Regions from separate parts of the Homo sapiens genome. Here all the other regions are linked to region 1. The links come from fine-mapping of genetic effects on gene expression. A gene starts in region 1. Each other region holds a variant in brackets. All regions are shown on one strand. Distances are from middle to middle.

What was found.
Region 2: its variant is fine-mapped to the expression of FKRP in whole blood (INTERVAL, PIP above 0.99). The same link has a PIP of 0.9 or more in sigmoid colon, subcutaneous fat, tibial nerve and visceral fat.
Region 3: its variant is fine-mapped to the expression of FKRP in whole blood (TOPMed, PIP 0.99).
Region 4: its variant is fine-mapped to the expression of FKRP in whole blood (TOPMed, PIP 0.98).
Region 5: its variant is fine-mapped to the expression of FKRP in kidney cortex (GTEx, PIP 0.95).
Region 6: its variant is fine-mapped to the expression of FKRP in sigmoid colon (GTEx, PIP 0.95).

What each region holds. Positions count from the first base shown.
Region 1 is chr19:46,743,603-46,747,686 of GRCh38, reverse strand. It overlaps FKRP (fukutin related protein), which reads right to left and starts at 1,630. Exons shown (of 4, transcript NM_024301.5): 1 at 1,597-1,630. It overlaps STRN4 (striatin 4), which reads left to right and starts at 1,237. Exons shown (of 18, transcript NM_013403.3): 1 at 1,237-1,538. The coding sequence starts at 1,257. RefSeq lists silencers at 812-861, 902-1,001, 1,042-1,191, 1,202-1,251, 1,462-1,691.
Region 2 is chr19:46,712,696-46,716,779 of GRCh38, reverse strand. PRKD2 (protein kinase D2) reads left to right here. Exons shown (of 18, transcript NM_016457.5): 1 at 1-649; 2 at 2,779-2,917. The coding sequence starts at 410. LOC107987269 reads left to right here. Exons shown (of 4, transcript XM_017027568.2): 4 at 1-246. Among named protein-coding and RNA genes, the nearest start is that of PRKD2, 2.4 kb to the left of the region's middle. RefSeq lists an enhancer at 1,932-2,231 and a silencer at 2,422-2,651. The variant C/A (reference allele first, on the strand shown) is at 1,936.
Region 3 is chr19:46,699,699-46,703,782 of GRCh38, reverse strand. PRKD2 (protein kinase D2) reads left to right here. Exons shown (of 18, transcript NM_016457.5): 6 at 2,671-2,748; 7 at 2,831-2,984. Among named protein-coding and RNA genes, the nearest start is that of MIR320E, 7.6 kb to the left of the region's middle. The variant A/C (reference allele first, on the strand shown) is at 1,738.
Region 4 is chr19:46,798,839-46,802,922 of GRCh38, reverse strand. No RefSeq gene overlaps it. Among named protein-coding and RNA genes, the nearest start is that of SLC1A5, 12 kb to the right of the region's middle. The variant T/G (reference allele first, on the strand shown) is at 1,514.
Region 5 is chr19:46,720,448-46,724,531 of GRCh38, reverse strand. STRN4 (striatin 4) reads left to right here. Exons shown (of 18, transcript NM_013403.3): 13 at 1,248-1,418; 14 at 1,582-1,722; 15 at 2,192-2,290; 16 at 2,460-2,546; 17 at 3,761-3,996. The coding sequence ends at 3,930. Among named protein-coding and RNA genes, the nearest start is that of PRKD2, 5.4 kb to the right of the region's middle. The variant G/AG (reference allele first, on the strand shown) is at 1,999.
Region 6 is chr19:46,258,746-46,262,829 of GRCh38, reverse strand. It overlaps the pseudogene IGFL1P2. Among named protein-coding and RNA genes, the nearest start is that of IGFL1, 31 kb to the right of the region's middle. RefSeq lists enhancers at 1-352, 1,689-2,188. The variant T/G (reference allele first, on the strand shown) is at 2,179.

The DNA of each region.
Region 1 (4,084 bases):
CACACCTGTAATCCCAGCACTTTGGGAGGCCGAGGCGGGCCTGAGGCAGATCACCTGAGGTCGGGAGTTCAAGACCAGCGTGACCAACATGGAGAAACCCCGTCTTTACTAAAAATAAAAAAAAAATTAGCCGGGCGTGGTGGCGCATGCCTGTAATCCCAGCTACTTGGGAGGGTGAGGCAGGAGAACGGCTTGAACCGGGGAGGCGGAGGTTGTGGTGAGCCGAGATTGGGCCATTGCATCCCAGCCTGGGCAACAAGAGTTACACTCTGTCTCAAAAAAAAAAAAAAAAAAAAAAATCCCCTCCTTTGTTGGGCTTGGTTCCTAGGGTCACTCGAAGGGGGCTGCTCTATTATCATAGTAACCAGGCCTTGAACTTGCCTGTTTCTCACCTTCCGGAGGAAGGTCCAGGCCCTGTAACCATAGCAACTGCCCCTCAGCAGAGCATCTCCTCTAAATAAAAACACCTGGTTAGTTTGGTGCATGGGCCTCCCACGATGGGAAGGGGAAGACGGTTACCATGGTAATGCCAACTAGGTGGCTATGGGGGAGGGGCTGGGGAAGAGGTGCTTCTCTTAGAGATCAGTGTCCTTGGGGCTGGGGTCCTTTCTACCTGAATGCTAGGTGGGGGGGAGGTTGCCATAGTAATCAATGAGGATAGGAGCAGAAGGACCACCACGGACACTTAGGTTACCTTAGCAACCTTCTCCTGGTGCAGAGTCCTAAGAGGTTTGGGGCTCCATAACCACAAAGGTGGAAGCGAGGGGAAGGCTGCTCCCCACCACCTCGCCCCCACCGCTGGGGAAGGGTTACCATGACAACCAACCTGGCCGGCAATCAGAGAGGATGGGGCCACTGCTGGTCGCCCTTTCTCTCAGAGTAAAAGTAATTGTCCAGGAGAGTGGTGTTTGGGTGTGGAAGGGGTAAGGCTCTTTCTCTGGGGCGAAGTGGGAGGAGGGGGGCAGAAAGCGGCCCCTTCCTCAGTCTCACTCCAGCGAGGGGGACCGTCGCGCGGGGCCTGGGTCTCCCTCGCCCTCCTCGGGGCGCGATCTCCCACCCGCCGGCCCCCGCGCGGGCACGCTACCCTTCGGTGTAGACCCGGGTGGGCGAGGCTCGCGCTCGCCGCCGGCCCCCCTTCCTACTGTCCCCCGCCGGGCGCGCGCGCGGTGGTTGCGGCGGGGGAGGGGGGGGGGTGTTGGCGCGGCCGCGCAGGCGCGCGAGGCACAGCGGGCGCGCAGGCCGGCCCCGGGGCCTCCATGATGGAGGAGCGAGCGGCCGCCGCGGTCGCCGCCGCCGCCTCCTCCTGCCGTCCGCTCGGCTCAGGCGCGGGCCCTGGCCCCACTGGGGCGGCCCCGGTCTCCGCCCCTGCCCCCGGGCCGGGCCCGGCAGGTAAGGGAGGCGGCGGCGGAGGCAGCCCCGGGCCCACGGCGGGCCCGGAGCCCCTGAGCCTGCCGGGGATCCTGCACTTTATCCAGCACGAGTGGGCGCGCTTCGAAGCCGAGAAAGCCCGCTGGGAGGCCGAGCGCGCCGAGTTACAGGTGAGCGCTGTCCCGGGACCCCCGACCCCCAACCCGGCCCGGCCCGGCCCGGCCTCACCCGCTGCCGCCGCCGCCGCCATCTTGGAGCAATGGCCGCCGGGACGGCCGGCGGGGGGGCGGGAGGGGACCGCGACGGTCCCGGAGGGCGAGTGAGGGGCCGTCCGAGGGGTGTCCTGAGGGCACTCCGGGGTGGGACGGGACCGGGACGGCCCGAGGTGGGAGTGGAGGGACCGGGGGTGGGAGGGATCACCGGGACCGGCCGAGAGAAAGGGGCGGAGGGACCACAACCAGCTGGGAGTGGGACTGGGACTGGGACTGAGCACGCTGGCCGCGGGGCTCCTGAGAGAGGCGACTCGAGCCCTGGAGGGGAGGCTAAGAGAACTCGGGAAAGGGTGTGGAGAGGAGCTGGAGGGGTCTGGGAGACCTGAGTGGTCTCCTGTGGGAGTAAGCAGAAGCTTGCCGGGCGCCGAGGGACTCCCGACCCCGACCCCGACCATGGCCCTAGCCAGGTGCAGGTTGGAGGTGGGAGCGTCCAAGGGGGGAACTTGGGACCCGCTGGGAAAGAGCGGGTCCAGATGGGGAACCGGGAGGATTTAGGGAGAGGAAGTCGGGAACCTGGGATCGGTGTGTTTCGGGGCGACTGGACGGTGGGCACGGAAGGAGGGCTGTGTAAGGACCCGAGGGGTGGGAGGAGGGTTTCAAGGGGTCCAGGATGAAGGTGTGTGCCTTCCCCTCTGAGGAGAAACTTTGGGGATCCCGGGCATGTGTGGCTGCACAGTGCAGGGAAGGGTTCTTTGGAGTGGAAGTGTGGACAGAGCAGGGAATGTACCCTAGGAGCCTGGATGGGAGAGCTTAAGAGTGGAAGTTCCACTTTGGGGGTGTGCAGGAGTGGGCGCGATGGCACTGAGATGGCACGTGTGTTGTAGGATGTAGGTAGAGAGCCCTGAACTGGAGTGTGGGGTGTTGGGCATGTCCAGTATGGAGGTGAGGGTCCTGGGATGGTGCCAATGAGGACGAGTTAGGGGTTACCCTGGGGTGATGCTTTAGGGGGGAGAATTTTGTAGAGCCCGAAGGCAACATGAGGAGGCATCTCGGAACGGGGGTAGACTGGGGTTGGGGGGAAGGGGATATGTTTGTGGAAGTCTTGGGAAAAGACCCCGTGGTTTTTGGGGTAGCTTGGGACAGGGATGTTGAATGGAAGAGTCTGAGGAGTTGGGCTAGGGTTTGTGACCTCGTGGAGCGTCAGGTCCATTGGCAGTGACTGGAGGACCATGGAGATGTCCGGATTTGAAGGGATCAGGAATGGCCCGCTGGAAGTCTGAAGATTCTTGGACTGGGTTATTATTAGCAGAAATTGTCATTACCTGCTTGTAGCAGCCCACCTTTCCCCTTCCGATTTGCCGTTTGCTATCTAGTAGGAAGCTGGTACCCAAATAAATAGCTGATGAGAATTGTGTCGGTAGGGATGGGGTGCGGTGGCTCACGCCTGTAATCCCAACACTTGGGGAGGTTGAGGTGGGAGAATCCCTTGAGCCCAGGAGTTCGAGGCCAGCCTGGCCAACATAGCAAGACCTCATCTCTACAAAAAAGTACAAAAATTAGCCGGGTGTGGTGACATGCGCCTGTAGTCCCAGCTACTCAGGAGGCTGAGGTGGGAGGATTGCTTAAACCCCGGAGGTTGAGGCTGCGGTGAGCCATGATTGCACCACTGCACTCCAGCCTGGGCAAAAGAGTGAGATCCTGTCTCAAAAAAAAGCATTTTGTTCATAGGATGAGTAAAGACCCTCCAGTAACTCTCCCCCTGCCCTCACTTGTGGTGGCTGAGGCTTGGGGCTGGGATGGGAGCAGAATCCTTATGTAACTGCTCTCACTTCTGTCCCACTCTCTACTTCCGAAGCTCTTTCCCAGCATACATCTCATCAGATCTTCACAATGCCCTGTGATGTAGGCAGAGGCAGTGTCATTACCTCACTCAGCAATAACGGTACCAGCTGCAATTTAGTGAGCACATACCATGTCTGGGGCGCTGTATCAAGTACTGTAGATACGAGCTGTCATTTAATTCTTGCAGCATTCTGGGAGGATAAAGGATATTCCCCCTACCTTTAAAAAAAATCAGGAGAGGAAATGGAGGTTTTGAGAGGGTGATTTATCTAGGATCCCAGCAGATGAGCAGAAGGGCTGGTCTGTGGTGGACCTTTTGTTTATTTATTTATTTATTTATTTATTTTTATTTTTATTTTTTTGAGACAGAGTCTCACTCTGTCACCCAGGGTGGAGTGCAGTGGCATGATCTTGGCTCATTGCAACCACTGCCTCCCAGGTTCAAGCGATTCTCCTGCCTCAGCCTCGCAAGTAGCTGGGATTACAGGTGTGCACCACCACCACGCCTGGCTGATTTTTGTATTTTTAGTAGAGATGGGGTTTTGCCACGTTGGTCAGGCTGGTTTCGAACTCCTGGCCTCAAGAGATCCACCTGCCTCGGCCTCCCAAAGTGCTGGGATTACAGGCATAAGCCACCATGCCCGACCGTCGGTAGACTTTTA
Region 2 (4,084 bases), 31 kb after region 1:
TCTTCTTGGAGCACTGGATCCTGGGATTCCCTCTGCCCCCTTCTCAATCCCTCCTCTAGGGAAGGGGCCTTTGAATCGCGGGCTCTCCTGATCCCTGTGACCCCGACCTACTAGATTTCCTCTCAGGCTTCTTGGAATCTCAATCGCTGGGACCTCCAACCCACTACTTTTCTCCTTTCTGATCTTCTGGGAGCCCTGGATTCCGGGCCTCTGACCCACTATAGTGCCTTTCTCTCCTTCCCAGGACCCCGCCATCCTCAGGTCCCCTCCGCCTGCCAGATCTTTTCTCGGATCCCCGCTCTCCCACCACCTGCTCACGAGATCCCGCGGATCTAGAACCCAGGGTCCCCCGGGGCCCCCCGGCCGGGTCCCGGGTGGGCTCCAGGCGGCCGGTCCCCGGCCTCCCCCCATGGCCACCGCCCCCTCTTATCCCGCCGGGCTCCCTGGCTCTCCCGGGCCGGGGTCTCCTCCGCCCCCCGGCGGCCTAGAGCTGCAGTCGCCGCCACCGCTACTGCCCCAGATCCCGGCCCCGGGTTCCGGGGTCTCCTTTCACATCCAGATCGGGCTGACCCGCGAGTTCGTGCTGTTGCCCGCCGCCTCCGAGCTGGCTCATGTGAAGCAGCTGGCCTGTTCCATCGTGGACCAGAAGGTGAGGGCGCAGGCTCCCTGGATCCAGCTCGGGGAGAGGTTGAAGGAGGGGGCGCTGGCAGAGGGGTCTGGGGCCTGGTGTGCGGAAGAGGGAGGAAGGAGACCTGAGCTTTGGGTGATGGAGGGATAGGGGGCATTGCCCCCCTCCATTGCCCCTCTCCCCACCATCCCTTTGAGAGAGGACTGGGCAGGGGTGGGGTGCCCCAGAGGCCTCCCCAAATTTCATGTCCCTGCATGTCGTTGTTTTCTGCAGCAAACAGGGAGGAAGGGAGGGGCCAGCCAGGTGTAGAGAGGGGAGGAAGGGGCAGCAGATGTCGGCGGACCTCCACGTCCAGGCCCATCCCGGGCCTCCCATTTGGTGGAAACAGGAGAAATTGAACCCGGGCTGGCCATGGTGATCCGGTGACATGTGTGGGTGCAGGTGCTTGAGTTAGCTGCCAGGGGCAAGTGAGGTCTCGGAGCCCAATTCTGCCCTCCCCTAAGCCTGAGATATGTGTGGAGGGGCAGGCACTCCTACAGACCCTGGGGACTCTATTCCCTTTCCTAGTCACAGTGCTGTTAGCCTACTCTTAATTTTGGACACCAGGGTCCCCAGGGTGGGCAGCTGGGTGTTATGGCAAGAGGAAACCAGGTGGAACTCCACGTCTAAACCGTGAAATGTTAAAAGAATAGTGGGCTTCTGTGTTGGAGTACTGGACTGTAGAAATGTTAGAATATTAGAATCATAACTTGTTGGAATATGCATCCTAGGCAATTAAATTGCCCCCATGTTCGTGTTCAAATATTAGAATTCTAGGTTTGTGAAATAGTAAAACATTAAAATGCTGGAATATTAGATTCCTAGATTGTTGAATCCTAGAAAGTTAAAATGTTAGAATTTTAGAATGCTGGATGGATGAGGTCCTTGAATGCTAAAGAATTCAAAGAGCACAGTCCTAGCTTGTCAGACTCCTAGAATATTAAAATATTAGATTACCGCTTATTTAGGTTATTGAAATCCTAAAATGTATAGTGATACCAGGTAGGAATCTAGAATGTATAATTCTATAATGTGAGCATGTTGGAGTCCCAAAATATCCAAATTCCAGAATCTTTTCAGACTCCTGGAAATGAATCCTTTGGGCATCAGAGAAACGTGGGGAACTGGGCCAGCTCCCCCATTCTACAGACAAGGAAACTGAAGCTTAGAGAAAAACTTCCCAAGGGGTCAGGGCCAAGGCAGTCCTGGTCTTCTGTGGACTCTCTCTTAGCAGTGAGAACTGATAGGGTTTTGCCCACCAAATGCCT[C/A]AATCCCGCAGGCCCAGCTCACCACCCCAACTCAGCCCACTTCATGGGAAGCTGGTGGCAGTGGGGGTACGGGGGCAGATTGTCCCTTGGGTGAACTTCTTTGTCCAGTGCTCAAGTCCCCAGCCTGCCCCGCTCAGGCTTCACCCCAGTTTTATTTTTCTGCCAGGTCCAGGTGTGTTAGGGCCGCTTACCTTCCTTCCCGAGGCCCCACCGGGGCAGTTTCACTTTCTGTTCTACTAGGTTTCATTTCCTGCCCCCAGGCCCCCAAAGCTGAGGACCCAGACACCTGGGTCCTTTGAGCATTGGGTGGCAGGCGCCCTCCTTATCTCCAGCGCCCTCGAGTCCAAGTCCCCCGGCCCCCCCCCCCACTTTCCCAGGAGCCCCGAAAAGTCCTCCTTCCAGCTCGCCCCACCCCAGTGCTGGGCCTGGAGCCAGGTAACTGGGACAACAATAGACAGATCCAGGAAGGAAGCTGGGGGGCGGGTGTGTGAGCCTGGGGAGGAGGCACAGGGGAGGGAGTGTTCATTCAGCATCCCCTCCCACCTCCGCCAGGTTCCGGAAAATTCGAGGTGTCCACGCTCCCGGAGCCACTCTCCCTCCCACCCCAGCTCCCCCTTCCAGCCACCAAACCCACGCCGGCGCCCCCTCCCCGTACAATTGGGGCGCTGGCATCCTGCCCGGCTCGCGCTGGGGTTGGGAGGGGGCAGGCAGGAAGCGAGGGCCTGCGGGGTCTCTGCGTTTCCGGGGGAAACAGCCGGCCCTGCCCTGGGAGGGTCACAGTCCGCCCGCTGCTGAAGGCGGCTCTGAGCTTTTCCGTCGCCACATCCCTCTCCCGCCCCTCAGTTCCCTGAGTGTGGCTTCTACGGCCTTTACGACAAGATCCTGCTTTTCAAACATGACCCCACGTCGGCCAACCTCCTGCAGCTGGTGCGCTCGTCCGGAGACATCCAGGAGGGCGACCTGGTGGAGGTGGTGCTGTCGGGTGAGAGGTGGTGGCCGGCCTGGGGGCGGGGCCTCGGGTGGGGGCGGGGCATCTGGGGGAGGAGAGGGTAGGGGGAGTTAGAAGTCAGGAGAGGCCGGGTGTAGTGGCTCACGCCTGTGATCCCAGCACTTTGGGAGGCTGAGCTGGAGCTGGGGGGATCGCTTGAGCCCAGGAGTTCGAGATCAGCCTGGGCAACATAGTGAGATTCCATCTCTACCCCTTTCTCTCCCTCTGAAAAAAAAAAATAAGGAGAGTTGGGGGCTTCTGGAAGATGGTTACAGAGTGGGGTCATGAAGGCGCTCTTTAGGGACTGGTCTAAACTTTCATTTATGGATTAGGATGCTAGTGACACGCTTTGTACAGTTTGAAAATTCATTGAGCTGTGCACTTGTGATGTGCGGCCTTTCCTGAACATATGTTATACTTATTTATTTATAAAACTAGTCAAGTGCAGTAGTTAGAAGGGGGAAAAGAGGAGAAGAAGGAGTTGGATCTGTAACTGACTGTGTTATGCTTAAATATAAAGGTAAAAAATGGGCCAGCTGCAGTGGCTCACACCTGTAATCCCAGCAGTTTGGGAGGCTGAGGTGGGAGGATCGCTGGAGCCCAGGAGTTTGAGACCAGCCTGGGCAACATAAGGAGACCCCATCTCTTAAAAAAAAAAAAAAAAAAAAAAGTTAACCGGGCGAGGTGGCACACGTCTGTAGTCTCAGCTACTTGGGAGGCTGAGGTGGGAGGATTTCTTGAGCTTAGGAGTTTGAGGCTGCAGTGAGCCACGATCATGTCACTGCACTCCAGCCTGGGCAACAGAGAGAGACCCTATCTCTAAAAAAGAAAAAAAGTAGAAAAAGAAAAAAAAAAGTTATGATGTCCATGGCTCCTGCCACGAAAATGCTAAATTAAATCAGAATCTCTGCAAAGTGAGATGGAATCTGCACATCAGTATTTTTAAAAGCCCCCAGGTGATTTTCTAAGACACAGCCAGAAGCCAGTTCATCCACTCACTATTCCAGTAGTATAGATGGGCATGCTCTCAGCACCTTAGAGCAGTCTATGGCCCTTGGTCCCTCTTGAGGGTGGGGGCAGCTGCCTTTTTCATGGCTGCCTTCCCTGCTGCTCCGGCATACTGCAGTGCCCAGTGAAACCGGCTCAATGAATGAATGACAG
Region 3 (4,084 bases), 44 kb after region 1:
TTTTTTTTTTTGAGACGGAGTCTCACTCTGTCGCCCAGGCTGGAGTGCAGTGGTGTGATCTCGGCTCACTGCAAACTCTGCCTCCTGGGATCAGGACATTCTCCTGCCTCAGCCTCCTGAGTAGCTGGGACTACAGGCGCCCGCCACCATGCCTGGCTAATTTTTTTGTATTTTTAGTAGAGACGGGGTTTCACCATGTTAGCTAGGATGGTCTCGATCTCCTGACCTTGTGATCCACCTGCCTCGACCTCCCAAAATGCCGGGATTACAGGCGTGAGCCACCGCGCCTGGCCACACCCAGCTAATTTTTAAATCATTTGTAGAGAGAAGGTATCACTATATTGTTCAGGCTGGTCTTGAACTCCTGGGCTCAAGCAATCCTCCTACCTCGGCCTCCCAAAGTGCTGGGATTACAGGTGTGAGCCACCGCGCCCAGCTGAACCTCAGTCTTTAGAACCTTGGAATCCTAGATTCATAACGTGCTTAGCATGGAATTCTAAAACTGTAGAACCTGAGAATTCTAGAATCAGAACCATAGCATTCAAGAATTCCGAATGATAGAATTCAGCTAAAATAACAACAGAACTTTAGATTACACATCTTAGATCTCCCAAGTTATAGACTCTCAGAGCATGAGAATTTTGGAACCATGGGATTTGAGGGTAATAGAAACATAGGCACATCAAATTTGAGAGTCTTAGACGTCTAGAATCATATAAGCTTGAAACCATCGTAACCTAGAATCCTGGAAATTCTAGACTCCCAGAACTTTGAACAATCAAATTCTAGAATCCAGCCAGGTGTGGTGGCTCATGCATGTAATCTCAGCACTTTGGGAGGCCAAGGTAGGTGGATCACTTGAGCCTAGGAGTTTAAGACCAGCCTGGGCAACATGGTGAAACCCTGTCTCTACAAAAAAAATTAAAAATTAGCCAGGCATGGCAGCATGCATCTGTGGTTCCAGCTACTTGGGACTCTGAGGAGGGAGGATTGCTTGAGCCCAGGAGGTTGAGGCTGCAGTGAGCCATGATTGTGCCACTGCATTCCAGCCTGGGTGACAGAGCAAGAACTTGTCTCAAAAAAAGAAAAAAAAAAATTCTAGAACCTCAGAAGCCTAGATCCACATAAACTTAGAAACATCCAATTCAAGAATTTACTGGAACAATCAAATTCTAGAATCTTAGAAGCCTAGAGCTAAAGAAGCATAGAAACATCAAATTCTAGAATCTTGTATGTATAGAATCCTAGAACCTTGGAATCTGCAGATTCTGGAGGTAGAGAAGCCTAGAATTGTAGAACCCTAGAACTGTCAAATTTTAGAGTTTAGATATATAACACCCTAAAATCTTGGACATTAAAGAGTCTTAGAAGTGTTGACTCATAGATGTCTAGAGTTCTAGAAACTTGGACATCAAACTCTGAAGCCTTAGAAATACGGAATCAGGTCAGGGGCAGTAGCTCACACCTGTAATCCCAGCACTTTGGGAGGCTTAGGTGGGTGGATTGCTTGAGCCCAGGAGTTCAAGACCAGCTTGTACAACATGGAAAGACCCCATCTCTACAAAAAATACGAAAAATTAGCCAGGCATGGTAGTGCGTGCCTGTAGTTTCAGCTACTCAGGAGGCTGAGGTGGGAAGATCGCTTGAGCCTGGGAGGCAGAGGTTGCAGTGAGCCGAGATGGTGCCATTGCACACTCTAGTCTGGGTGACAGCCAGACTGTTTCTTAAAAAAAAAAA[A/C]AAAAAACAAAAAACAGAATCATAGAACCTTCATAAAATAGGTTTTTAGTAAACTCTAGAATCTTCGATGTATAGTGTCCCTAGAACCGTGGAAACACTGAACTCTACAGCAATGGTTCTCGACCAGGGGCCGTTTTGCTCCTAGGGGATGTTTGGCAAGGGTTGGAGATGGTTTTGTTTGGTACGCTGGGATAGTGCTACTGGCATCCAGTAGGTAGAAGTCAGAGATGCAGCTAAACATCCTACAATACACAGAGCAAGTGCCCTAAAACAAGGAATTATCCTGGGCACTGTGTTAGTGTCACGGGTTGAGGAACCCAGCCCTAGGGTGTTCAGAGTCTGGAGTCACAGCACATTAGAACCAATAACACACACACACACACACACACACAAGTCGGGCGCGGTGGCTCACGCCTGTAATCCCAGCACTTTTAGGAGGCCAAGGCAGGTGGATCATCTGAGGTCAGGAGCGCGAAACCAGCCTGACCAACATGGCGAAACCCCGTCTCTACTAAAAACACAAAAAAATCAGCTGGGCGTGGTAGTGGGCGCCTGTAGTCCCACGCCCAGCTAATTTTTGTATTTTTAGTAGAGACGAGGTTTTACCATGTAGGGCAGGCTGGTTTCGAACTCCTGACCTCAAATGATCTGCTCTCCCCGGCCTCCCAAAATACCGAGATTACAGGCGGGAGCCACTGCACCCAGCAGTCGTCGGGATTTTGAGTCTAGCCCTCCTACTTAATCAAGACCCCCCCGATGGTTGGGAAAACTGTGGCTGAAAGTGGGAAAATGACCAGGGCAGCAGCAGCCAGTGTTCTTACCCAGACAGCAAGAGTAGACTCTTTTGAGCCTGAGGCTTAGGGTCAAGGTTCAAGCCTTCCAGGTAACCTCTCTTCCCCTTCTCACCCGTTCCCTTGTTCCCTGTCCTACCAGACTGCAAGTTTAACTGTCACAAACGCTGCGCCACCCGCGTCCCTAATGACTGCCTGGGGGAGGCCCTTATCAATGGAGGTGAGAGGCTGGGGGGATGCTGGGGAGAAAGGGGAAGGGGCAGGACTGGGTGGAGACCCCTCTGATGCCTCCGTCCCCACAGATGTGCCGATGGAGGAGGCCACCGATTTCAGCGAGGCTGACAAGAGCGCCCTCATGGATGAGTCAGAGGACTCCGGTGTCATCCCTGGCTCCCACTCAGAGAATGCGCTCCACGCCAGTGAGGAGGAGGAAGGCGAGGGAGGCAAGGCCCAGAGGTATACACAGAACCCTCCAAGAGACCCTGGGGGAAGACCCTCCTGCACAGTGAACCTCAATTTCTTTTTCTCTACAATGGGCTGACATCACCTCATATTTATAAATTTTCCCAGTTCCTGAGGCAAACCTTTTAAAGCACTACAATTTTTTTTAAATAATTTTTTGTTTGAGACAGGGTCTCGGTCTGTCGCCCAGGCTGGTGCAGTGGTGCAGTCTTGACTCACTGCAGCCTCGACCACCTGGGCTCAAGCGATCCTGCCACCTTAGCCTCTCGAGTAGCTGGGACCACAGGCTCGTCCACCACACCCAGCTAATTTTTGTATTTCTGTAGAGACAGGGTCTACCCTATGTTGCCCAGGCTGGTCTTGAACTCCTGACTCCTGAGCTCAAGTGATCCACCCGCCTCAGCCTCCCAAAGGGTCTTGCTTTGTTGCCCACTGGAGTGCAGTGGTGTGATTGTGGCTCACTGTAACCTCAAACTCCTGGGCTCAGGTGATCCTCCTGCCTCAGCCTCCCGAGTATCTGGGACTACAGGGATGCACTGCTATCCCTGGCTAATTTTAGACGGCGTTTCGCTCTTGTTGCCCAGGCTGGAGTGCAGTGATGCAATTTCAGTTCATTGCAACCTCTGTCTCCTGGGTTCAAGCGATTCTCCTGCCTCAGCCTCCCAAGTAGCTGGGACTACAGGCACCCGCCCAGGCCCAGCTACTTTTTTTGTATTTTTAGTAGAGACAGGGTTTTGCCATGTTGGTCAGGCTGGTCTTGAACTCCCAACCTCAGGTAATCCACCTGCCTCGGCCTCCCAAAGTGCTGGGATTACAGGCATGAGCCACCGCGCCTGACCTATATTCCTCTTCTTTTTTTTTTTTTTTTTTTTTTAAGATAGGGGGTCTTGCTATGTTGCCCAGGGTGGTCTTGAACTTCTGCGCTCAAGCAATCCTCCCACCTCAGCCTCCCAAAGTTCTGGGATTACAGGTGTGTGCCACTGTGCCCCCAGCCTACACATTTTTAAACTATACACGGAGTTCATACTTAGTCAGCTCCACTGGAATGTGAGCTCAGGTGCATGAGGGCAAGGATATTTTCTGCCCTCCCAGGT
Region 4 (4,084 bases), 55 kb before region 1:
GCCTTGAGAGTAGCTGGGATTACAGGCATGCACCACCACACCCAGCTAATTTTTGTATTTTTAGTACAGACAGGGTTTTACCATGTTGCCCAGGCTGGTCTCGAACTCCTGATCTCAGGCGATCCACCTGCCTCGACCTCCCAAGTGTTGGGATTGCAGGTGTGAGCCACCGTGCCTGGCCCACTTTTGCAAAAATTATATCAGTAAGAAAAATTATAACAGTAAGCTAAGCTAACCCATACTTCATCTTGCCTTTCCCTTCATTATTCCTGGGCTATTGGGCCAAACTTTGGAAGACATTTAGGGTACAGTTTAAATAATAGGCTTTGCCCAAAACTCAACCGCTTTTGTAAAGTTAATGGGAGGTCATCAGGCTGCGGGGAGGAGAGGACCCTGAGTACTGCTAAGGCGCAGACATAAAAGATTATCAGCCATTATCCTGGAGGTTAGAAGATAGGCTACTGCCCCAATAACACCGCTGTTGTAGATTGGCCTTTTGAGATATCTGATCCTTCAGACCCCCAGGGCAGGCCTTAGACCCGCCAGGGTAGGACCCTGTTCCCTCAGACCCCCAGGGCAAGGCTATTTCACAACCTCCCCCTCCACGCCCATAGGGCTATGTCCCTTCAGAGGCTGCATTGTATGGCCTGACTCACATCTGACTAGGGCTCTCTAAAGCAAAAAGTAACAATCACAGTCATAGGCCCCCCAGCCCCTAATATACTGATCTCATGGCATTGCCCAGACCTATGCTAAGGTTTTCTTTACTGCTGCTGGCACATCTGGGGTAGGTATTACTTTCATCCTATTTCAGAGATGACCCGAGGTTCAGAGATGGAATCCGTTACCCAAGATCATCTAAGAAGTAGGGGGGTGTCAGGCGTGGTGGCTTACACCTGTACCTGTAATCTCACTACTTTGGGAGGCCGAGGTGGGAGGATCACTTGAGGTCAGGAGTTTGAGACCAGTCTGACCAAAGTGGTGAAACCCCGTCTCCACTAAAAATATAAAAATTAGCCAGGCATGCTGGCGTGGGCCTGTAATCCCTGCTACTCGGGAGGCTGAGGCAGGAGAATCACTTGAACCCGGGAGGTGGAGGTTGCAGTGAGCCGAGATTGTGCCACAGTACTCCAGCCTGGGTGACACAGCGAGACTCTGTCTCAAAAAAAAAAAAAAAAAAAAAGAAGAAGCTGGGGAGGCCCATCTCTCTGCCTCCATTTCCCCCTCAACCATTGTCTTATCCTGCCTCCTAGGAAGTATTGAATGTCTTTCCATCCAGGTCACCTGAGCCCTGAAATACCTGTAGGTTCCCAGGCTGGGACCTTGCTGTGGTAGGGAAACAAGTCCCCACCTTGGCTGGATTTTGGGGGAGGTGGGGAGGGCAGTGCCTGCCACCCCAGCTTTGGGCTTCAAGGCTCAGAAACCTGAGTTACCTTTTTTTTTTTGAGACGGAATCTCGCTCTGTCGCCCAGGCTGGAGTGCAGTGGAGCCATCTCGCCTCACTGCAAGCTCC[T/G]CCTCCCAGGTTCACGCCATTCTCCTGCCTCAGCCTCCCGAGTAGCTGGGACTACAGGCTCCTGCCACCACGCTCGGCTAATTTTTTGTATTTTTAGTAGAGAAGGCGTTTCACCACGTTGCCCAGGCTGGTCTGGAACTCCTGGTCTCATGTGATCTGCCCACCTCGGCCTCCCAAAGTGCTGGGATTACAGGTGTGAGCCACCACGCCCGGCCCTGAGTTACAATTGCACCAGGAGCCACTGGGGCCTGCCACCCTGCAGCTGGGGGAGACAGGGCTGAGCCGCCCAGACAGGCCAGCTCTTAAATAAACAATCAGGGAGGTAGGAAGAGAAGGGCAGGGCTGTTCTCCAGTTCCCCAGGCTGGAATGTGCAACGCTCCTGACATCTCCTCCTTTCCTTCCTGTTTCTTTCTCTTTTTTATTTTTAATTTAATTTACTTTTTAATTTTTTTAATTTTTATTTTATTTTATTTATTTATTTTTGAGACGACATTTCGCTCTTGTCACCCAGGCTGGCGTGCAATGGTGTGATCTTGGCTCACTGCATCCTCCACCTCCCGGGTTCAAGTGATTCTCCTGCCTCAGCCTCCTGAGTATCTGGGATTACAGGCGCCCACCACCACATCCGGCTAATTTTTTGTATTTTTAGTAGAGATGAGGTTTCGCCGTCTTGGCCAGGCTAGTCTCAAACTCCTGACCTTAGGTGATCCACCCACCTCCGCCTCCCAAAGTGCTGGGATTAAGGCATGAGCCACTGAGCCCAGCCTTTTTTTTTTTTTTTTTTTGAGATGGAGTCACTTGAACCCACTTCCTGGGTTCAAATGATCCTTCAGCCTCAGCCTCTGGAGTAGCTGGGATTACAGAGGTGAGCCAGTGCTCCCGGTCCTCCTTCCTATTTCTGAAAGCAAAGCATCAACCCACATTCCTGAAGACCCTTCTGTGTGCCTGGCCCCAGGCAGGGCCGTGCTTGGGACACAGTGGAGGTGGAGACAGCCAACCCCCACCCTCAGTCCAATGGAGGTGGCAAACCGTGGTCCCCAGACTTTGACCACTCAGGGTGGCCAGGGCTGGGATTAGGAGTCCAGGGGCCTGGGGGAAGCCTGGGGAGACACGTGACCCAGACTGGTGGACTCAGCAGATTCCTGAGTGGAAATGTGAAGATTCTGGAGAAATGAAGAGAAAAATGTGCGAGGAGGCCGGGCGCGGTGGCTCACGCCTGTAATCCCAGCACTTTGGGAGGCCGAGGCGGGTGGATCACGAGGTTGGGAGATCGAGACCATCCTGACTAACACGGTGAAAACCCATCTCTACTAAAAGTACAAAAATAAAATTAGCCGGGCATGGTGGCGGGCGCCTGTAATCCCAGCTATTCAGGAGGCTGAGGCAGGAGAATCGCTTGAACTTGGCAGGCGGAGCTTGCAGTGAGCCGAGATCGCGCCCCTGTACTCCAGCCTGGGCGACAGAGCAAGACTCCCTCTCAAAAAAAAAAAAAAATGTGTGAGGAAAGGAGTGACGTGGTGAGACTCATGGACCACAGAAGGCTTGGCACACCAGTGTTTCTCAAGTAATTTTGAACTAGAGACACCTGATCCACAACAGGATGTATACATTTCATGTATTTATTTTATGATTATTTATTTTATCTATTTATTTATTTATTTATTTGAGACAGAGTCTCGTTCTGTCGCCCAGACTAGAGTACAGTGGTGTGATCTCAGCTCACTGCAACCTCCGCCTCGCGGGTTCAAGTGATTCTCCTGCTTCAGCCTCCCGAGTAGCTGGGATTTCAGGGGACTGCCACCACACTCGGCTAATTTTTGTATTCATAGTAGAAATGGGGTTTCACCATGTTGGCCAGGCTGGTCTCGAACTCTTGACCTCAAGTGATCTGCCAGCTTTGGCCTCCCAAAGTGCTGGGATTACAGGTGTGAACCACCGTGCCTAGCATATTTATTTTATTTTTAGAGATGGGGTCTCGCTCTGTTGCCCAGGCTGGAATGCAGTGGTGAGATCACTGCAGCCTCCAATTTCTGAGCTCAAGGAATTTAATTTAGAGATGGGGACTTGCTGTGTTGCCCAGGCTGGTCTGAACTCCTAGGCTCAAGGAGTCTTCCCACCTCAGCCTCTCACTAGCAGGGACTTGGGTGCAAGCTACCACACCCTAGCTAGATGTATATTTTACCTGGAATGCAGTATGTGTGCAAATATGTATATAAATTAAGCAAAAATTTCACAAAATAATAATTACTTTTACAATGCACTCTGGTGTGTGTGTGTGTTAAGACTGAAGTTCAGTGGCACAATCGTACCTCACTGCAGCCTCGATCTCCTGGGCTCAGGTGATCCTCCTGCCCCTGCCTCCTGAGTAGGTAGGATTATAGTTGCATGCCACCACACCTATCTATTTTTTTAATGTTTTTGTAGACATGGGGTCTCACTACACTGCCCAGGCTAGAGTGCAGTGGCCCAATCATAGCTCATTGCAGCCTTGATCTCCTGGGTTCAAGCAATCCTCCTGCCTCAGCCTCCCAAGTAGCTAGGTTTTCTTGTCTTTTCAGCCTTTCATATTG
Region 5 (4,084 bases), 23 kb after region 1:
GCTGGGAGCAGCCCATGCACAGGCGTGGCTGGCCCTGGCAGCCTCTGCTCTGCCATGCCGTGTACTCTGTGTGTGGGGATCCGCCAGGGTCTCTGCGTGGTTGAGGGGAGGGCATGTCCAGAGAAAGCAGAGAAGGTGGAGTTAGCTGGGCCAGGCTGGAGCGCGTTGGGGCTTTCTCTTTGGAGCATCTAAGACCTAAGTAGGGAAGTGACCAGACTGTCACTTCTGTTCAACATCTGTCCCCCTGTTCTCTGCCTTTTTTTTTTTTTTTTTTTTTTTTTTGAGACAAAGAGTCTCACTCTGTCACCCAGGCTGGAATGCAGTGGCGTGATCTTGGCTTACTGCAACCTCTACCTCCTGGGTTCAAGTGATTCTCGTGCCTCAGCCTCCCGAGTAGCTGGGATTACAGGCACGCACCACCATATCCAGCTATTTTTTGTATTTTTGGTAGAGACAGGGTTGCACCACGTTGACCAGGCTGGTCTTGAACTCCGGACCTCAGGTGATCCACCCACCTTGGCCTCCCAAAGTGCTGGGATTGCAGGCATGAGCCACTGCGCCCGGCTCTGCCTCCTTGATCATGCACCTGGCCCTGTGCTCCACCTTGTCTGGGCAGAGTTCAGAGGTCTTTGTCTCCTCTCAAGGGGAGGACAGACTTTAGAGAACAGGCTCACCTGCACAAGGTCAGGATCGGTCCCAGCTACATTAGCCACCACACTTTCGGTGTCAGCAGGCCAGAGCTGCTGGTGTGGACTCCAGCAACCAGGGAAGCAGTGATTGGACCTCTGAATGACCAGGGGGCTTTGGAGAGACCAGGCAAAGCCCATGCACTTGGCCATGGGCTGAAAAGACTGCTCGGGCCAGGGTTGGGACCAACCCTTGTCCAGCACAGGCTGCGTGCCGCTCCTGGGGCCACAGAACCATGCTGTTCCTTCTTCCTTAATGGAGCCCGAAAAATTCTGTATTGAGCTCCCAGTTTCTGGGCCCTGCTTGGGGAGACAGCTGTGAATAGAGGGAAATCCCTGCCTTCTGGAGCCCTAGAACCTTCCTTGGAGAGCTAGTGGGCAGTGTGAGCAGCTGCCGGGCTGTCCTGGCAGTGGACAGTTCCGAGGGGCACCAGGTGTGAAGTGGGTGCGTGGGTGATTGGAGCCCAGCTGCCTGGGGCTTGGCAGAGCTGGGGCTCTGGGCTGTCCAGGGAGGAGCTGGCAGCCCTGACACAGCCCATTTCCTCCCTGCGGTGGGTGCAGACCCAAGCGTGCTGAGCCACGTCCTGGAGGGCCACGGGGACGCCGTGTGGGGCCTGGCCTTCAGTCCCACCTCCCAGCGCCTGGCCTCCTGTTCTGCTGATGGCACCGTCCGCATCTGGGACCCCAGCAGCAGCAGCCCGGCCTGCCTCTGCACCTTCCCCACAGCCAGCGGTGAGTGGGGGCCCCGGTGCCTCACCCTGGAGCTGTGCGGGATCTGGAGGCTATCAGAGTGGTTCCTGCTGAGGCCCCAGGCCTCCCACCCACTGTCCCCCACCCTGGGGCAGGGCTGGGTCTGAGGGTCCATTCAGCAGCCTTCTCTTCCCTGTGCCCTCAGAGCACGGGGTCCCCACCTCAGTGGCCTTCACCAGCACCGAGCCTGCCCACATCGTGGCCTCCTTCCGCTCTGGCGACACCGTCTTGTATGACATGGAGGTTGGCAGTGCCCTCCTCACGCTGGAGTCCCGGGGCAGCAGCGGTAAGGGGGCTGACATCAGCTCATGGAATTGGTCTCAGTGTCTTCTGGGCCCCACTTCCTCCTGGGGCTTTGGCGACCCCTTGTCAGTCAGCTCAGATGACTCCCCTGCACCCTCAGGCCCTGAGCAGGAAGGAAGTTGGGTCCCAGTGGAGGGCCCCCGGCCCTCACAGCCAGGGCACTGGCGGGGCTGAGTGGGGAGAGCGCGTCAGGGCCGCCCCGTCGGGCCCTCTTGGTAGAGTGGCGGAATGTGTTCATGTTTGTTATTCCTCTTCCCCC[G/AG]CCCCAAAACAGGGCCCAGGGGCTGCTTGTGCAGAACCAGCGCTGCGGTCGGGGACCGGAGTGCCCTCGCCCAGCCCCCCTCGACATCCAGGCAGAGGCTGGTGTAGGGGCTGTCACGCTGCGCTTGTGCCTCTGTTCTGGTCTTCCTGATTTTCTGCTTGACATCCTTCCCTCTTCCTGCGTTTTCCTTCAGGTCCAACCCAGATCAACCAAGTGGTGAGTCATCCAAACCAGCCTCTCACCATCACCGCCCACGACGACAGGGGCATCCGCTTCCTGGACAATCGGACAGGTGAGGCCTAGCCCCTTGTGCTCGTAGTGGGTGGGGAGGGCCAGAGGCAGGCAGCAGAGATGCTTGCGTCCCTGTGGGAGGCTCTGGGAGTCTCTCGTCCAGTCCTTTCACTCTCTCAGGCGAGGCCCAGAGTGGGAGGGGAACCTGCCACCCGCCCTTCTCGCCTCAGGTAAGCCGGTGCACTCCATGGTTGCACACCTGGACGCAGTCACCTGCCTAGCCGTGGACCCCAACGGCGCATTCCTGATGTCAGGAAGTAAGTTGAGCACACTAGTCCCACCAGGGTTGGGGAGAAGGGGAGGAAGAGGCCTGGGCACTGGCTCCAGGCAAGTGCTCAGGGGGCCCCGGGGGCCAGGGCTGGGGGAGGCTGGTCTGGGCGGGAATGACCGTGGTGACCATAGGGGGCAGCACAGTCCGCTGGGGCCCTCCTCTGGGTCACTGGAGCTGCATCGTCTCATTCGGCCTCTAAGCAGCCTGTGCGGTTGGTACTTTGATCCCCAGTTTACAGATGTGGGCCCTGATGCCCAGACGCTTTGTAACTTGGCCATTGAAGCTCTGTAACATCAGTCCAGGTCTACCTGGGGGTACCCGTGGGACTTCTGTGCTCCCACCCTGTTGTCTCTGGATAAGGGCATTGAGGCCAGCAACGTGGCTGTGCTTAGAAGGGATGGAGTGTGACGTGGGTGGGTGGAGAAGGAGACTGGAGGTCGCTGTGGGGGTGAAGGGTGAGGCCTGCAGTGAGTGCAGCAGTGAGTGTGTGTGCACAGAGGCGCAGGCCGTGGTGTTGGAGGCTGTGGCTGGGCTCTGCCTCCGGGCCTGTGCTGGCAGCCTCTGGTGGGTGAGGGGCTGGTCAGTGAGCTCCAGCCCAGTGCCCAGACAGGGCTCTATTCTGGGGGCCACTAGACAGTGGAGGGAGCTGAGCCTTTGCCCTGCCTGATCCTCTTGACCCTAAATTAAACTTCTCCTCGCCAGGGCCCTGCCCAGCCTGCCGTCCTCTCCCCTCTTCTCCCCAAGTCCCTGCTAAGGCTCTTGTGGCCACCCCCACCTCCTGCCTCAGGACCTTTCCCGCCTGTCCTTCTGCCTGGAAGGCTCCCTGCATTCCTCCTGGGGCCATTCTGTCCTCACACTGACCGGCTGGGTTGCTTTCTTCTTTCTCTTCCTGTTGCCCAGCTGCAGCGTCAGTGCTGCGGGGCAGGGAGAGTTGCCTGTTTTGTTCACTGCCCCTGCCGCCCTGGGGCTCAGTGTGCAGTAGCTGCTCAAGAAATGCTGGGGGATGAGATGGACTGTGGACAGGAGGGGACCAGGGTTCTCCTTTGGGCGGGCCACAGGAGGTGATGAGCAGAGGGTGAGAGAGGAGAGTTGAGCCCCACTTCCCCTGAGGCCTTTGGACAAGGCCAGGTGAGGGGTTCCAGGGCTGCGTCTGAGCGAGGAGCCCAGTGACCACCCCTTCTGTCCCCGACACATGTGCAGGCCATGACTGCTCCCTGCGTCTCTGGAGCCTGGACAACAAAACGTGCGTGCAGGAGATCACGGCCCACCGCAAGAAGCACGAGGAGGCCATCCACGCTGTTGCCTGCCACCCCAGCAAGGCCCTCATTGCCAGTGCTGGCGCTGATGCCCTGGCCAAGGTCTTCGTATGATGCCCACCTGGCCCTGCCCTGGCCGCCACGCTGGCTGGGGTGTAGGGCCGGGCAGGTGGGGCTGAGGTGAGGGCAGAAACCCCGCATTCTGAGTCTCTGCACGCCCATGCCTAGTACTGCCAGGTGTGCTGAGCCCCGCAGTCCAGTCAGGGGC
Region 6 (4,084 bases), 480 kb after region 1:
CACACCTGGCTAATTTTTGTATTTTTAGTGGAGACGGGGTTTCACCATGTTGGCCAGGCTGGTCTTGAACTCCTGACCTCAAGTGATCCACCCGCCTCGGCCTCCCAAAGTGTTGGGATTACAGGTGTGAGCCACTGCGCCCAGACTAATTCATGTTCTTATTTTTCTTGTTCTGTATAATGACTAGGGAGAGTTAAATCACTTTGGGGCAAAAATCACTGCCTTCTGGTGTTTGTTTGTTTTTAGACACAGTCTGGCTCTGTCACCCAAGCTGGCAGGTAGTGGCGCGATCTCAGCTCGACTCTGCCTCCCGGGTTCAAGTCATCCTCTTACCTCAGCCTCCTGAGTAGTTGGGACTACAGGTGTGTGCGACTGTGCCCAGTTCATTTTTGTATGTTTTGGTAGAGGTGGAGTTTTGCCACGTTGCCCAGGCTGGTCTTGAGCTCCTATATATAAAATGTCATATATATATGACACATATATATGACATTTTATATATGTATATCATATATATATCATATATATAATATGTATATCTCATATATGTCATATATGTATATATATGACAAAGACAGAGGAGTCTAAGTAAATGTATGTACTTCTTCAGAGACAGGGTCTTACTCGGTTGCCCAGATAGGAGTGCCGTCTACTCCACTTCCACCCCCAGGGCCGGGCAGGTGACGCTTTGGCCTCTACCTGGGAGACACTAGAGCTCACACTGTGGGCACCTCTGGAGCTGACTGGGGAGATTTTCCTGAATCCTCGGCTCCCGCTGGGTCTGGACACCCTGTGGCTCCCTTGTCACAGGATGGCCTCACACCTCTTCTGCTGTCCTGGGCCCTCGCACTGATTCACGTCTAGAAGGGGACCAGGTCATACAGCAACCTTCGGTGCATGTCTCAGCTCTAGACTCACAGGGTCAGCTGTAAGACTGTGGCTGTGTGAGTGTGGGAGGGTGAGGACAACCCCAGGAGTGTCCTGCAATTTCCTATTTGCCAAAGAAGCCTCCATTCTGGAGGAGAGAGGGACCGAGGGTGGAGGGAGCATCGGTCCTCTCCTGGCTCTCAAAGGATCTGGCATCAAATCCACCATGACACATACCCTGTCTGGGACCTGTCTCGATCCAGGGCCCAGCATGTCTCTGCAGGAAGGCAGGGCATCCCACGGTATCACCAGCTCCTCTAGGAGTATAGGAGCCAAGGAGCTGCTGAGACCTGCTGATCACCCACTCACTCCCCTCCAGCCACCCCGGAGCCATGGCTCCCGAGGCCATGTCCTGGGTAAGGAGGACAGGACCCCATTCCCACCCGAGCCCATCTCCCATCTCAGCCACCACCGAGGCTCACTCCCCACCCCAAACTACACCTCATCCCTGTCCCCATGCCCGGCCTCCTCCTCAGACATGGCTCCATCACAGCAATTCCCCATCCATAGCCCCCGGGCCAGCCCCATCCACAGCCATTTCAGTCCCCAAACTACTCCCCAAAGTCTTGCCTAGCGCTAGTTCCAATCCCAGCCCCATCTTTTTCTAAATGTTGGTGCCAGTCACACCCATAGCACAACACCAGTCTCAGCGCAGCCCCTTCCCTCCCTGACCCCAGCTGAGCCCCAGCTCTGAGCTCCTCCAAAACCAGGAAACAACCACATTGCCCTGAACCCTAGGCCCATTTCTTCCGAGAGTCCTGCCTGCACCCCTTGACCACAGAGAGATTGAGGGTGGAGGGAGCATCGGTCCTCTCCTGGCTCTCAAAGGACCTGGCATCAAATCCACCACGACACATCCCCTGTCTGGGACCTCTCTCACCCCAGGGCCCAGCGTGTGTCTGCAGGAAGGCAGGGCAAGGTCAGCTTCTAGCCCTTCCCTGAGTCTCAGTCAGGGCAGAAACTCCCTCGGAGCCCCCCTTCCCCAAGCTGGGCTTCCAAGGATCGCCTGTGGTTTCCCGATCACCCCCTCTTCCCCTTCCCTCTCCCACAGCAGTCTTGGCCTCTCTCTGCATCCTCAGGCTCCTCTGCTCACACGGAGCCCCAGGTGAGCCCAGGAGGGACTGGGAAACTGGGGGATGAGTGTGGCCCCCAGGGGACCCCCGGCTGGGACCCATCTACCAACCATCTGACCTCACCAGCTCTGTCTCCTCCAGTGGCCCCATAAGTGCTTACCTCATGCTCTGCCAGCGGCAT[T/G]TGGGAAGTGGGGACAAGCTCTACGACCCCTTGCGGCACTGTTGCTATGACAGTGCTGTCGTGCCCTTGGGCAGGACCCAGAAGTGTGGAAACTGCACCTTCAGTGTCGCTTCGAGCAGTGCTGCCCCGGTCCCTCAGCTCCCAGGCGTCCCTCATGGTGAAGACGAAAGGCCAGAAGTGCTCCTCAGCCCTGACCTCGGGTGACAGGCTTTCTCGTAGGTGAGATCCGGTCCTCTCCATGGCATTGTGGGTGCAGGGGAGCGGGGCGCTGCATACTTGTTCTGCACTGGGTGGAGTCCCCATTCTCCGTGTCTGTCTGTCTCTGCCCTCCCACCTCTAGGTAGTGTCATCTTCATTTATAATGGCGTTGTTTCAAATTTTAATAATAGACAAAAAAGGCCGGGCGCGGTAGCTCACGCCTGTAATCCCAGCACTTTGGAAGGCTGAGGCGGGCGGATCACGAGGTCAGGAGATCGAGACCGTCCTGGCTAACACGGTGAAACCCCGTCTCTACTAAAAATACAAAAAATTAGCCGGGCTTGATTGCAGCCGCCTGTAGTCCCAGCTACTCGGGAGGCTGAGGCAGGAGAATGGCCTGAACCCAGGAGGCGGAGCTTGCAGTGAGCCGAGATCTCGCCAATGCACTCCAGCCTGGGCGACAGAGCGAGACTCCGTCTCAAAATAATAATAATAATAAGAGACAAAAAAATCTTCTCTCCCTATTACACTCTATCAAGTTTTACTTGACAATATTTGTGCAGTTAGCTTTAACATCTCCAAAGTAATTTTCTAAAGCTTCCTCCTGAAAAATAGCAAAATTTAGAAGTGCAGATTGAGATGAAAATTTTTTGTAAATATTGTTTGGCTTTGGGAACAATGACCAAAATGTTTAATACTTCCCGTCCCAGAGGTTTATTTACTTTTTTTTTTTTTTTTGCCTCTATTCAATCCACCTCTCCTTTTCCCTCCACTTGTTTCTCTTCCTCCATCTGTTTTGATTTCCCTCTCAGAACCTCGCTCTTTCAGCATCGTTGTCACGAGGCAGTGGCAGCTGAGCACCGAGGGCGGGGTCTCCAGCCCGTGCGGCAGAGCTGCTCACTCCTGCCTGGCAGGAGTCCATCAACAGATAAAGCTAATAATGGCAAACTGATATATGAGAAAGGTGACATTATACATTAGAAGAAAAGGGATGAAACTAGTCAACAAGTAATTTTAGATTCAATAGGCCACATAAGGATGCAGAATTTACTTTTTTTCTGGTGACTCAAAGCCAACAAGAATGAAGAAGTGGCCAGGTGGCCGGGCACGGTGACTCACGCCTGTGATCCCAGCACTTTGGGAGGCCGAGGCGGGCGGATCACGAGGTCAGGAGATCGTGACCATCCTGGCTAACACGGTGAAACCCCGTCTCTACTAAAAAATACAAAAAATTAGCCAGGCGTGGTGCGGGTGCCTGTAGTCCCAGCTACTCGGGAGGCTGAGGCAGGAGAACGGTGTGAACCTGGGAGGTGGAGCTTGTAGTGTGCGAGATCGCGCCACTGCATTCCAGCCTGGGCGACAGAGGGACACTCCGTCTCAAAAAAAAAAAAAAAAAAAAAAGTGGCCAGGTGCAGTGGCTCACGCCCGTAATACCAGAACTTTGGGAGGCTGAGGCAGGCAGATCAGCTGAGCTCAGGAGTTTGAAACCAGCCTGGGCAACATAGTGAAACCCTATCTCTACAAAAACTACAAAAATTAGCAGGGCATGATGTGAGCCTGTAATCCCAGCTCTGGGGAGACTGAGGCCCAAGAATCGCTTCAGCCTGGAGTTGGAGGTTTCAGTGAGCCAAGATCCCACCATTACACTCCAGCCTGGGTGCCACCCTGCCTGGCCCAGGTTTATTTACTTTTTAAAATTAGATCTAGT